Linked DNA regions of Homo sapiens: region 2 is linked to region 1. The links come from fine-mapping of genetic effects on gene expression. A gene starts in region 1. The other region holds a variant in brackets. All regions are shown on one strand. Distances are between the middles of the regions. Region 1 holds the start of NPY2R-AS1 (NPY2R antisense RNA 1). Region 2 has its middle 44 kb from the start of NPY2R-AS1.

Evidence for each region. PIP is the estimated chance that this variant, and not a neighbour inherited with it, causes the effect. A credible set is the group of variants that fine-mapping cannot tell apart.
Region 2: its variant is the best candidate, but not a certain one, in a credible set for the expression of NPY2R-AS1 in prefrontal cortex (ROSMAP, PIP 0.53).

Annotation. Positions count from the first base shown.
Region 1 is chr4:155,205,678-155,211,061 of GRCh38, reverse strand. It overlaps NPY2R-AS1 (NPY2R antisense RNA 1), which reads left to right and starts at 2,890. Exons shown (of 2, transcript XR_001741894.2): 1 at 2,890-3,037; 2 at 3,247-5,384. It overlaps NPY2R (neuropeptide Y receptor Y2), which reads right to left and starts at 2,426. Exons shown (of 2, transcript NM_000910.4): 1 at 1,993-2,426.
Region 2 is chr4:155,161,144-155,166,527 of GRCh38, reverse strand. No RefSeq gene overlaps it. Among named protein-coding and RNA genes, the nearest start is that of NPY2R-AS1, 44 kb to the left of the region's middle. The variant C/A (reference allele first, on the strand shown) is at 3,120.

The DNA.
Region 1 (5,384 bases):
TGTAGGGTTCTTCCCTATGACATAACATCCATATGCTTATTTTCTTATTCTTAATCAGATAACTGCTTATACAAAAAAAAAATTGTCCTGAGACCCTGTTAAATTAATTCCTGATTATAACATTTTAAATTGTCAGTATAACCCATAAAGAAAACTTTCTGTTTCAAAGGTTTCTGCTCCCCCAACTCTCTTTCTCCCGCTCCATTTATCTCACTTTTTTTTCTCTTTCCGCATCTTTCCCTCACTCTCTGTCTCTCACCACTCACCCTTCCACAGGAGCCTTACTATACAGAGAGACATGAGAGTTTCCATGTACTCAGGTGTTTGCCGTACTGATATATTCCTGCTCCCTCTGCATAAATTTCACATAGAACATTCCAAGGAGCCCCAGCCTCTTTTCACATGTGCCTCCACTCCTTAGTAATTAGAGAAATCTGAAACAAATCATTCATATCTTGGAGTGTATGTTTGATAGCCCACACCATATCCCCTAGACTAAGAAAGAGACTGGTTTTAGAGTACAGTTACTCAATCCTGACAAGCCATTTAGCCATTTACAGAATTAAAGAGACTCCAAGAGGCTGGAGTTTGGAGGTTATACCTGACTAAATTGAGAGGAAGCATGAGATTGAAGGTTACTAGGAGGAAGAGTATACTTGATTTTTTGATTTGCTTTGCTTTTTCTTCTCAGTCTTGTTTTATAAATTTTGAAGCCCTTTTATTTACAACTTCTCTGTAGGAATGGTTGTTGATCTACAAGCTCTTAGAATATAGACAGTGTTAGCTGTGCTTAAGCAGGTTACTCCCTTCAGCCAGGTCAAAACATTACCCAGAGCAGAAAATGCATCATTTCATGACAGCACTTCTGGAAAAGTGGGAAAGGAAAATGGTACACAGAGGAAGTTGCCATCAAAAGCACACAAAGGAAACAGCAAGCAGACAAGGGAATAACCTTTCTTTGAAATAAGGCAAAATGAGATATTTACATTACTTTAAGACATTTAAAGAGAACTTTTACTGGTACAATTTTCCTGAATAAGGGAATCCTTAGAAACTTTGTCATAGAAACATTTCTTTGCAGAATAGGAAAAGAGTTTCAGGACTTCCCCCAGCAGCCCACCACCCGAGATTCAAATAACCTCAAGTTATTTGAGTCAGAGACCAGTTCATGCTTTGAGGAGAGATGTTTAAATCTGTGGGGGCTTTTTGCAACAATATTGTCACAGGTTGGCCTTAGTAAACCTACACATCTTATCAAGCACAATGTCTTCCAGAACATTTTTCCCAGGGAAAAATATCTCAGAAATCAGTCTCAGAAATCAAAAGCCCTGCATTTGCCTACACTAATTAGTTCTAGGAATGGGGGCAGGGGAGGGGGAAGAAGGGAAGTTTCAAGAATGCTACATACAAGACATGATTGTTTGGCTAATCAGTAGAAAGTTGAAAATATTCACCAAAGGGTGTGGGAAGCCTTTCTTTGGAAACAGCATCTCCATTTCATGTCACTGAATTTTAAATGATGTGTACCTATTGCAAAAAGTCTCAAAGCTTTTAATTTTGCCTCTTTCCCTGCCACCAAAAGCTCCTGCCAGTGGGTGAGCCTTTCTGATGGAAAATGAGCAAACGCTTAAATGAATGTGTCTCCTCTTGAACGGCTTTGGAGAATCCAATAGGACCTTCTGCTTTAGACAAGTGTTTGATTTTTAAAGAGGCAGGAACAATAACAACTTACTGTTCTGGAAAGATAATGACCTATCTCAAAGAAGGGTCAAGGAAATAGTAAATAATCTTCAACAGAAAAGGGAAAATCTAGAGAAAGTAGAAAATGGGGATGGTATTACATCCTCCAAATCGCCACCTCCCGCCTAAAGGAGGAGGAAAAAGTCCATACACTCATGAGGACCTCCTCATGTCCCTCTTCATAGGAACCGAGCGCTCCTCTAGGGATTTTCTTGTTCCCAGGAGGTGATCAGAGTTAGGAATTACACTTACTGACCTGGACCTCGCGTTTTTGCGGAGACGCGGAAACAAGATGTGTGCAGTCCGTCTGTCCGATGATTAGCCAGCCGACCTGGAGAGGGCCCTGGAAGGTGCCCAAAGGCAAGTCCGGTTCCGTCCCCTCCTAGGGTCCAGGACAGCCCGCGCCGCGCGGGCGGGCAGCCGGAGCAGTCAGAGCGGCTGGGCGGTTGGCGCTGCCGGGTCTGCTGCCGACCTCTCAGGCCAAGCGCGCCTGGGCACCGCACTCACTCGCGGGGTGGGCGGGTGAAGGTGGGAGGATCAGAGATGGGAGCGTGGGGAGGGGGGCAAACCCCACCCTTAAACACAAGAAAACAGGTGCAGAGGCTGCGGGCGATGGTCCTGCAGGGGAGGGGACTGGAGGAGAAGTTTTGGTGGCGAGGGAGCAGGAACAGTGTCCAGGGTCTCTCAGCCGCCTCCCGGGCTTGCAAGCCCGCTCAGCCAGACCCTACCCAGAGGGGCGCCCCCTCGCGGGTCCCCAGCCACCACCTGCAGCTGCTGCTGTCACCTACTGTGCCACCCCCAAGTTTGATACTCTGGGCGTTTGCGCCACCCCTACCTCCCTTCCCTTCCACGAATCTCTCCCTTTGCTCTCTACCCCCCAGTTCCGCGAGAGCTGGCCCGGCGAAGACAGACCTCCTGGACTTGAGGCCGACTTCACCAAATCCGCCCCGGGAAAAGGCGAGGGCAAAGGCGGGGCGGACAGACCCAGCTGCGGCTGAGGGACTGCGGTCCCTAGCAAGGCAGGCGAGCGAAGGAGACCTCAGGCTGGCGGGAGGAGGGCCGGGGCTGGAGAATCCCCGCGCCTCGTAGGGGCTGAGAAAATTCCACAACTTCCAATCGAGAGTTGTTTTCTTTTGTGTGTGTAGGAGCAGAGATGGGGAGCTGGATCCGCGCAGAACCCCGGAAAAGCGCCAGCAGGATTGCACCGAGAACAAATCCTCCGCACCCTCGCCCAGGGCTGGGGCGCAGTGCGCTGGTGCTCCTCTAGCTGGGCGGTCCCTGTGCTCCAAACGAGAAGGTAAAGCGAGTTCAGATCCTGCTGCCCATGATCAGCAATTTCCCTAACAGGTGTCTGCAGACAGTTTATAAGTTGAGTAGTGCAGATTCAGACTCGATAGCCAGGAACCTGTGTAGTGAGCTCTGGCTCAGGTTAAAAGCTAGGATAGGGATAGGATAGGAAAGCTATGGGACACGAATAAAACACAATCTCTCTCTCTCTCTCTCCAGATAGCTGACTTCCGAATCCTTCACTCTTTGATCCTGACCCAAGCCACTCGTGCCACTAGGAGCGCATGCCTATGGAATACTCGCTCCTGTCTCCTTGTGGTGAAGCCTTCCGCTAATGCCCAGAGCCTCCCAGGCTGGATTAGTGGGTAGGAGCAAAACAGGATAGTGGAGACAATCAGCAGAGCAGCAGCGTCTATTTCCTCGGGATTCCTCCCAGGAACCCTATTCGAAGCCATTCCTTCTAAAAGTTTGCAGCCAGTCTCTCTTTCCTTTGTTGGTTTTAAGAGGAGGCAGTAGAGCTACCTACATACAAAAACGAAAGCCTGATACTGGTAACCTAAGTCTTTACTTAACCATCCTCTTCGGAGGCTTTGCACACATTACTTTTCCTCTATGCATTGTCATTTCTGAAATAAGGATGGTCATACTGGTGTGCTTGGAATTTCTCTGAAATATACTCCTAAAAGATTAGATTAAGATTAGATTCCGCTACTCTAAAATGAAAAAAAATATTTATCTGTTTAAAAAGGTAATACATATTCTCCAAGATGTTAATTAAAGGCTTCCCTCAAATGGATTGGATTTTCAGTTCCTTCAGGGTTTTCCACACCCTAATAGTATTGCATTTGTAAGGCATTTTTACAGTGTAACCTGAAATTAATCTTCAGTTAATATAGAATTATGCCCACAGGAGTATAGGAATTGTTTATAAAACAAAGCAGCCTGGGCTTTTCAAATACCTAGAAACAAAGGTAAACAGAAATGGAAATATTTAACATGTTCTACACAGTTCCACTTAAAGTCTTTTAGTAGTTGTTTTTGTTTTGTTTTGTTTTGTTTGTTTTTTCCTTAAGAAAGTACTCTTTGCCCAAATATGTGTTATATGTGACAGGTTCCATTCTTCTCAATATATCTGCATTGGTGAAGAATGAACCATATACCAATAAGTTATAACTTTAAAAGAGTAGAAATGGATTTAAACAACGACCACAAAAACAAATCAAATATCCAGCAAAACAGATGAGTGTTGTCTTTTAGAGCAATTGCTTTGGAAAATTCAACTGATTTCACTGACATTGATTGCACAAAACACATTTTATCTTCTTTAAAATTGCCTTTCAGAAGCGTATTAGCAGCCATAACCAACTATTTGCCTCACTCTCTTATAGACGTGTGTTTGTCTTAGTAGATTCATATAGTTCCACAGACATCTAGTCAGCAACCTCAAAAGAGTAAATGGTCTCTATGATTAATGTCCTTTAATAAAGTTCAGAATTGGATGAGAAACTGATAAACTGAAATGAAAGTCACTTCATAGTGTATCATATTATCAAGGAGAGCTGTGGGAATTAGCTTATGACACTTTTGTGCATCACAGTCTAATTCATATCCTTAAATGTGCATACATATCCTGTGTATTGTAGTAACAATGAACCACTCTGATGAATGTCCATAAACCCAGTTGTGACACTGACAGGAGTTTGGGAGTTTGTGGAAGTGGTGGTGAAATATCGATTAATCCAAATTGAAATAGGACAAGATTATTGATGCTTGATTTCTTTTGTATCAAATCATTTAGTTGCTCAGGAAATTCCATTTCTAACCAGAATATGTGCTGTGACTGCTCTTCAAATAGACAACAGACTCAAACTCAGATGCCTGCATGGTTAGGGCCAATGACATAAATGGACCAGCATGCTAGGTTGTAGGAGAGAGTGGAAAATGTTGATTGCCATAACACCTTGAAGAGCACAAAAACACATGCTATAGCTAAATGGGGAGATTGCTTCTCAGAGTACACTCAGCTGGCCTGCAAAAATCTTGATTCAGTATTGTCAGATACGATTTTTAAGAGAAGCAAAATCCATATTGTTAAAAATCTTCTGAATTTTAAATAAACCAAATTAATTTTTAAAAATCCAAAACTCCTAGTGGACAGGCCAAAATAAATAAGAAATCATAGATAGATAGATAGATAGATAGATAGATAGATAGATAGATAGATAGATAGCAGCCTGACTCATCATGGGCCTCCAATATTGTAACATGTTATATTAGTATTTGATGTCTGACAAATCTCCTTAGATATTTAAAACATAGTTCTACTACCATTTCCCCTACCCCATAGACCATTTCTC
Region 2 (5,384 bases), 45 kb after region 1:
CCCTGGTTTTACTAAAGCAAGCCGCATGTCATAGAACCATATGAAGTTGGATCTCAACCCTAGTGGGGACGATGACAGGGGGGTGAGGGGTGACAAATTACCTGTCGGGTACAATGTACACTATTTGGGTGATGAGTACACCAAAAGCCCAGAATTCCCACTATACAATTTACCCCGTGACCAAAAAACACTCGTACGCTTAAATCTATTGGAATTTTTTTAAAATAATAAAGTAAAACAAAAACAAATCTGAAAAAATTGGATCTCAGAATATGCCTCCAGTTTATTAGTTTTATGTCTTCTGCACATATTTTGGGGGGAAGAATCAATTTTTTGTTAGATTATTAAGTGGGATGGGTTTTATTTTAATATGCTTCCATGAGATATCTTTAGGTAAATGGAGAAAAAATAGGCTGTATTCTAGAAATATAGTCTGTTCTACTATAATGCTTGTTTCTAAAATACAACTCTGTTTCAATGTGATTGATATGTTAAGAAAGAAGTTGATCATAACACTAATTTGCTTATGCACAATACTGTCCACTAGGTGAACACAGAAAACTGCATTCACCTGAATAAAAACGTGTAGAAATACACACACATAGATACACTTCAAACATCTACCAGCTAGCTTGATTCAATGCATGTGTGATAAGCTGAACCTACCTTCTCTGGTGTTACAACTTTCCATCCAACTCCAAATAACCTTTCTTCTGCCACTTCACAATAATGCACAAGTTGCAGCCCTTCCAATGCCCAGTTATACAAGGAAATTCAGTTTTTCTCCAGGTAAAGTGCCAAATTTACTATAGATTTTGTTTTTTAAATTAACCATTTAATATGGGTAAAACTGTGCTGCCATTTTTATCAGCCCACTACTTTTTTTTTTTTCTTTTTTTGTTTTGTTTAGATGGAGTCTCACTCCTTCGCCCGGGCTGGAGTGCAGTGGTGCGATCTTGGCTTACTGCAAGCTCTGAACAGGCTCCTACTTTTTAAATATATGTCACTGACAGTTTTTGAGTGTTGGGCCCCTAGCCCCATTTCTCCCATATACCCTGTCTTTCTTACTGCATGATTTGTCTAATGCAGTACATTTTAGGAATATATCTGTTACAGCAGAAATGAAGATACCTTGAATAAACACTGTCTTCTCCCTGGGTTGATGTCCTCATCCACTGTTTTCTGTGGCTCTTAGCCCAGCCCTCTGAGAGCTTGTTCTTTACCTCTTATCCTCCTTAGCCATATCTGAAGTAGTTGCATGTGTGCTATGCCTCCTCAGACACTGCTCAGCTTTATCAGCCTATTTCCTGCTAAAGGGGATGATATTGCAACAAAAAATCCAGAACACCAGGGTCATGGGATGATATGACAGTTCCAGCCTATGTGACAGACCCACCATGTGGATAGGAAGGCATATTCCATTAGAATAAAAAGAAGAAAGCATACCAGGCAGACAACAACATTAATTAAAATAGTCACGAAGGCACGAGTGTGTCTCCTGACCCAGAATAAGAGGCAACTCTCATTATTGAGCCTCTTTGAAACCTTCTGGCTATCCTGGAATGGATTAGAATGAGTGATCTCATTTGTCTGTCAATACAGCCCCTTTCCCTAACCTCATGCCAACTCAGCTAGACCTGCATTGGGCTTGCTTATTCACACACCCAAACTCATGAACCTTTGTTAAAGAAGCCAGTGGAATTTGAGAAATTCACTTTTCTTCTGAACCATTCTGCTCCTGGAAATGCAGGTCAGAGTGTTTTTCATTAAAAATGCCACTGGTAATAAGTTCATTCACCCATAAACTTTCCTATTATTTTGTAATTTTTTTAAAAAAATCTCAATTGTTATGTATTCCTTATTACACCCTAAGCATTTGAGATTACAAATTTCTAATATAAAGACATTGTATATGAATAAAAACAGGAAGGTCGCATTGCCTTGTAAACCTGACGTACTAAAGGAAAATAACATGACATTTTACAACCAAGAATTTAGAAAGAAAAAAAACCTGAAATCTTTATTTTTTTCACAACATTTAAAGGACAATGGTTCAAATTATATTGAGAAATATAAAAATTTTGGAGAAAGGAAATTCACATCTATAAGCACATCATGTGGGAAGACTTTGTAATAAGAGTGCTTTGGAAATATTGCACTAGAAATGAGTAAAATAAATGAATGTTTAATGGTATCAGGCAATGGCAAGATATGTTCATCTCCATAAAGAGCCACACAGCTCTGGCATGAGGCAAGCAATGCCTTGAGGTCAGAGTACCTTTTGCCTGGGAAGTTCTTAGATGAGTAACAGCGAGGAAACTAACAGGTTAAGAGAAAATAATTGCCTTTCCTAAGACGATCCAAATAGTGTTCAAGTCTTCAAACCTTGTTTTGATGCTCTTTCCAGCATACCATACTGTTTGGTGCTCTTATCAATATACCCTGGTGTCTCCATACCCATACTGTGTAGAAGAAGAAACCTTGGACCTTGTTTATAGAGGAAGACTCCATACAGGCAAGGTTGGGATCCCTTGAAGAGTGTCACTGTGTAAGTATTATGGGTTAAATTGTGCCCTCTCCCCAAAAAATACATGTAAATTTTAACCTCTGGCACTGCAGTGAATATGACCCTGTTTGGAAATAGGGTCTTAGTAGTGTCATCAAGTTATAATGAGGTCATTTGGGCAGGTCCTAATTCAATATGACTGGCGTCCTTATAAGAAGAGAAGACACAGACACACAGGAGGAAGACAGCCATGTGACGACGGAGGCAGAGATTGGAACAATGTATCTACAAGCTGAGGAATGCCAAGGATTGCTGGCAAACATCAGAGCCTAGGAAGAGGGAATGAAGGAGTTTCCTACAGATTTTAGAGGAAGCATCGCCTAGCCAATACCTTCCTTCCTGAACTGCAAGACATGAATTTCTGTTGCTTTTAGCTTGGTTGAGGTTCTTTGTTACGTGACACATTACTATAGTATTTTTGTTTCAAAACAGGCATTGGACCCTGGCACAAGAAGCTGTGGCAGACACTGTTAGTTACCTAGATAAAATCCATACCTGTTCCATTGCATCTCTTCCCTGCTAAAAAATCCTGCTTTCGTTCAGACATTGAAAA[C/A]CCATTTGCCTACTTCTGGCCCCACACAGAAGGTAAAATGTAAATTAACCTAAGTTACTCAGGGTCATCTCATCTCCTTTATCAGTGATGTTTTGTTAAACACTCTTTTTTCCCCTTAGACATTATCATGTGTGACGAGCGGCTTACATGGTGGTTTATGTTGTTCAGCCAGGTTGCTGCTATGAAGGGAAAGTCCACAAGAACCACAGAGAACTCAACCTGAATACCTGACAACACCGAGCCATTGAATTCATCACTCCTATAACTGCCTTATTCTGGGCTTCTTACCACACAATGTAGTATTATACCATAACCTTGTTTAGTTGGATTTTCTGTTACATGTTCCTGAAATCATCCCAGTTGATGGAAATGTGAAGGCAACAGAAAGCCATAGATTTTCCATGTCCTCATTACATTGTCCAGAGGCAGACAGTACCTGGGGGCCTCTCAGTGAGGCTTTACTGTCTCAAAAATGCCCACTGGATTGCATAAATCGACATGGTGTTTCTGCATCTCAGGTTATTCATTTTATGCAAAATATACATGTCAAGATTTTTACATTATTTACTAAATGCAGTGGCACAAGAAATATTCATAATGCATTTTGGATTATAAAAAAATGAAAACATTTAGCTTTTATACCTTTTCCATTATTTGTGTTCCAGAAGCAGCCACTGCAACTTATAATGATTTCTAACAATCATTCTCTCGGTTTTTCAACTCCTTTCCAATTTTCTGCATAGTTCAAAAGTCTAACTGTTATAATACCATGAAATCGTAGACTTGGGAAGGATTAAAAATTTATTTGACCCTCTATCACCCATTTGATATTTGAATTCTCCCTCCAGATCCTCACTGCAAAACCAGAATCTCCTTTCCAGTGACAGGGAACTTACTACTTACTCTATCTTCAGACAGTTTTATGTGTAAAAAGTTCTTTCTTTCTAGGTTAAAAAAAAATCTCTCCTTGTATATATTTTGCAAATGGCCTTAATTCTACCCACAAGGACCACAGAAAAATTTAATTACTCTTTCATGTAATAGCTGTTATCATGTGAAGTCAGCCATATAAGTCAGTTCTTTTCTTTTCAGTCCCCTCAATTCTCGTTTCCAGGACACACACACGTGCACACATACACACACACACACACACACACACTACTCCAAGAATATCTTGACTAGTGCCTTTAATTAGAACTGTCCCCCTTTCTTCATTATTTTAATTTTATTAATGCATTTAATGGTCATTGAAACTTTAGCTATTTACACACTCTGCAGCTAAGCCCATGCCATCTACTAAAATATTTACATTATGTCCACATTGTCCCCATTACATTTCATCTTGAGGGATGTGGTCCATTGATCAGTTATTTATTGCTTTCTGAGTCCTGGGCCAACTATCCACACATTTGCCATTTCAACAAGCCTTATTCTTTTCTTAAATTTGATATTCATCTGAAGGGTGAATTTGATATTTTAGATGAATTTGGTATTCATCTAAATTCATCCTTATTGTTTTTATCGTTAGACGAAACTTGCCTCTCTTCTCCAAATGGAGATGTTTAATCTATGTAAGCTTAAGGGTCCCCACTTGACATTTATCTAAGATTGCTTTTTAAATTCCAGGAAGACTCGAATGATGCAGACTCAAGGCGGACAACGAGGGAGGGAGGTACCTGCTTAGGTTGGCACCTGAACGTATTGGTATCTGCTGAGCCACCTCATGTTCATTGTGACTTTGGTTTTATTAAATGCAGATCCTGCCATATTATTTTTGTTCCTTGCAAAAAGTTCCCTTCAGGTCTGTGCCATGCTGTACCCTGAGCACAAAGGCTTATGCTGTTGCTCCCTTGCCAACTTGGTGATGTCAACCTAAATAACAAAGAGAGCCTCTCTAAAAGAAAACTATATTTATTCAGGAGTAGAACATTGCAATGGGAATACCCATGCCATATTAAACTATGTGCTTTTTCTGGGAGGTAAAGGAAGACAAAAGTTTTTAAACAAAAAATGAGGAGGATCACATAACTGTTTTGAGATAATTATCCTTGGCTACAAAGATCAATAACAAGGGTGATGCCAATTCAAAGTTGGACAGGCAGTTGCTGGAGAGATGTCCTTGCAGAAGGATTTTGTTTTTTTAGTATAAGATTGCAATGACCTTAGTTCAAGGTTATGGTTTTTTGTGGAGTCTTTTGTGATAGCTTTGTTATCGGGCACACAAGCATGAGAACCCCTCCTTCATAGACTTCCCTGGCTCTCTTT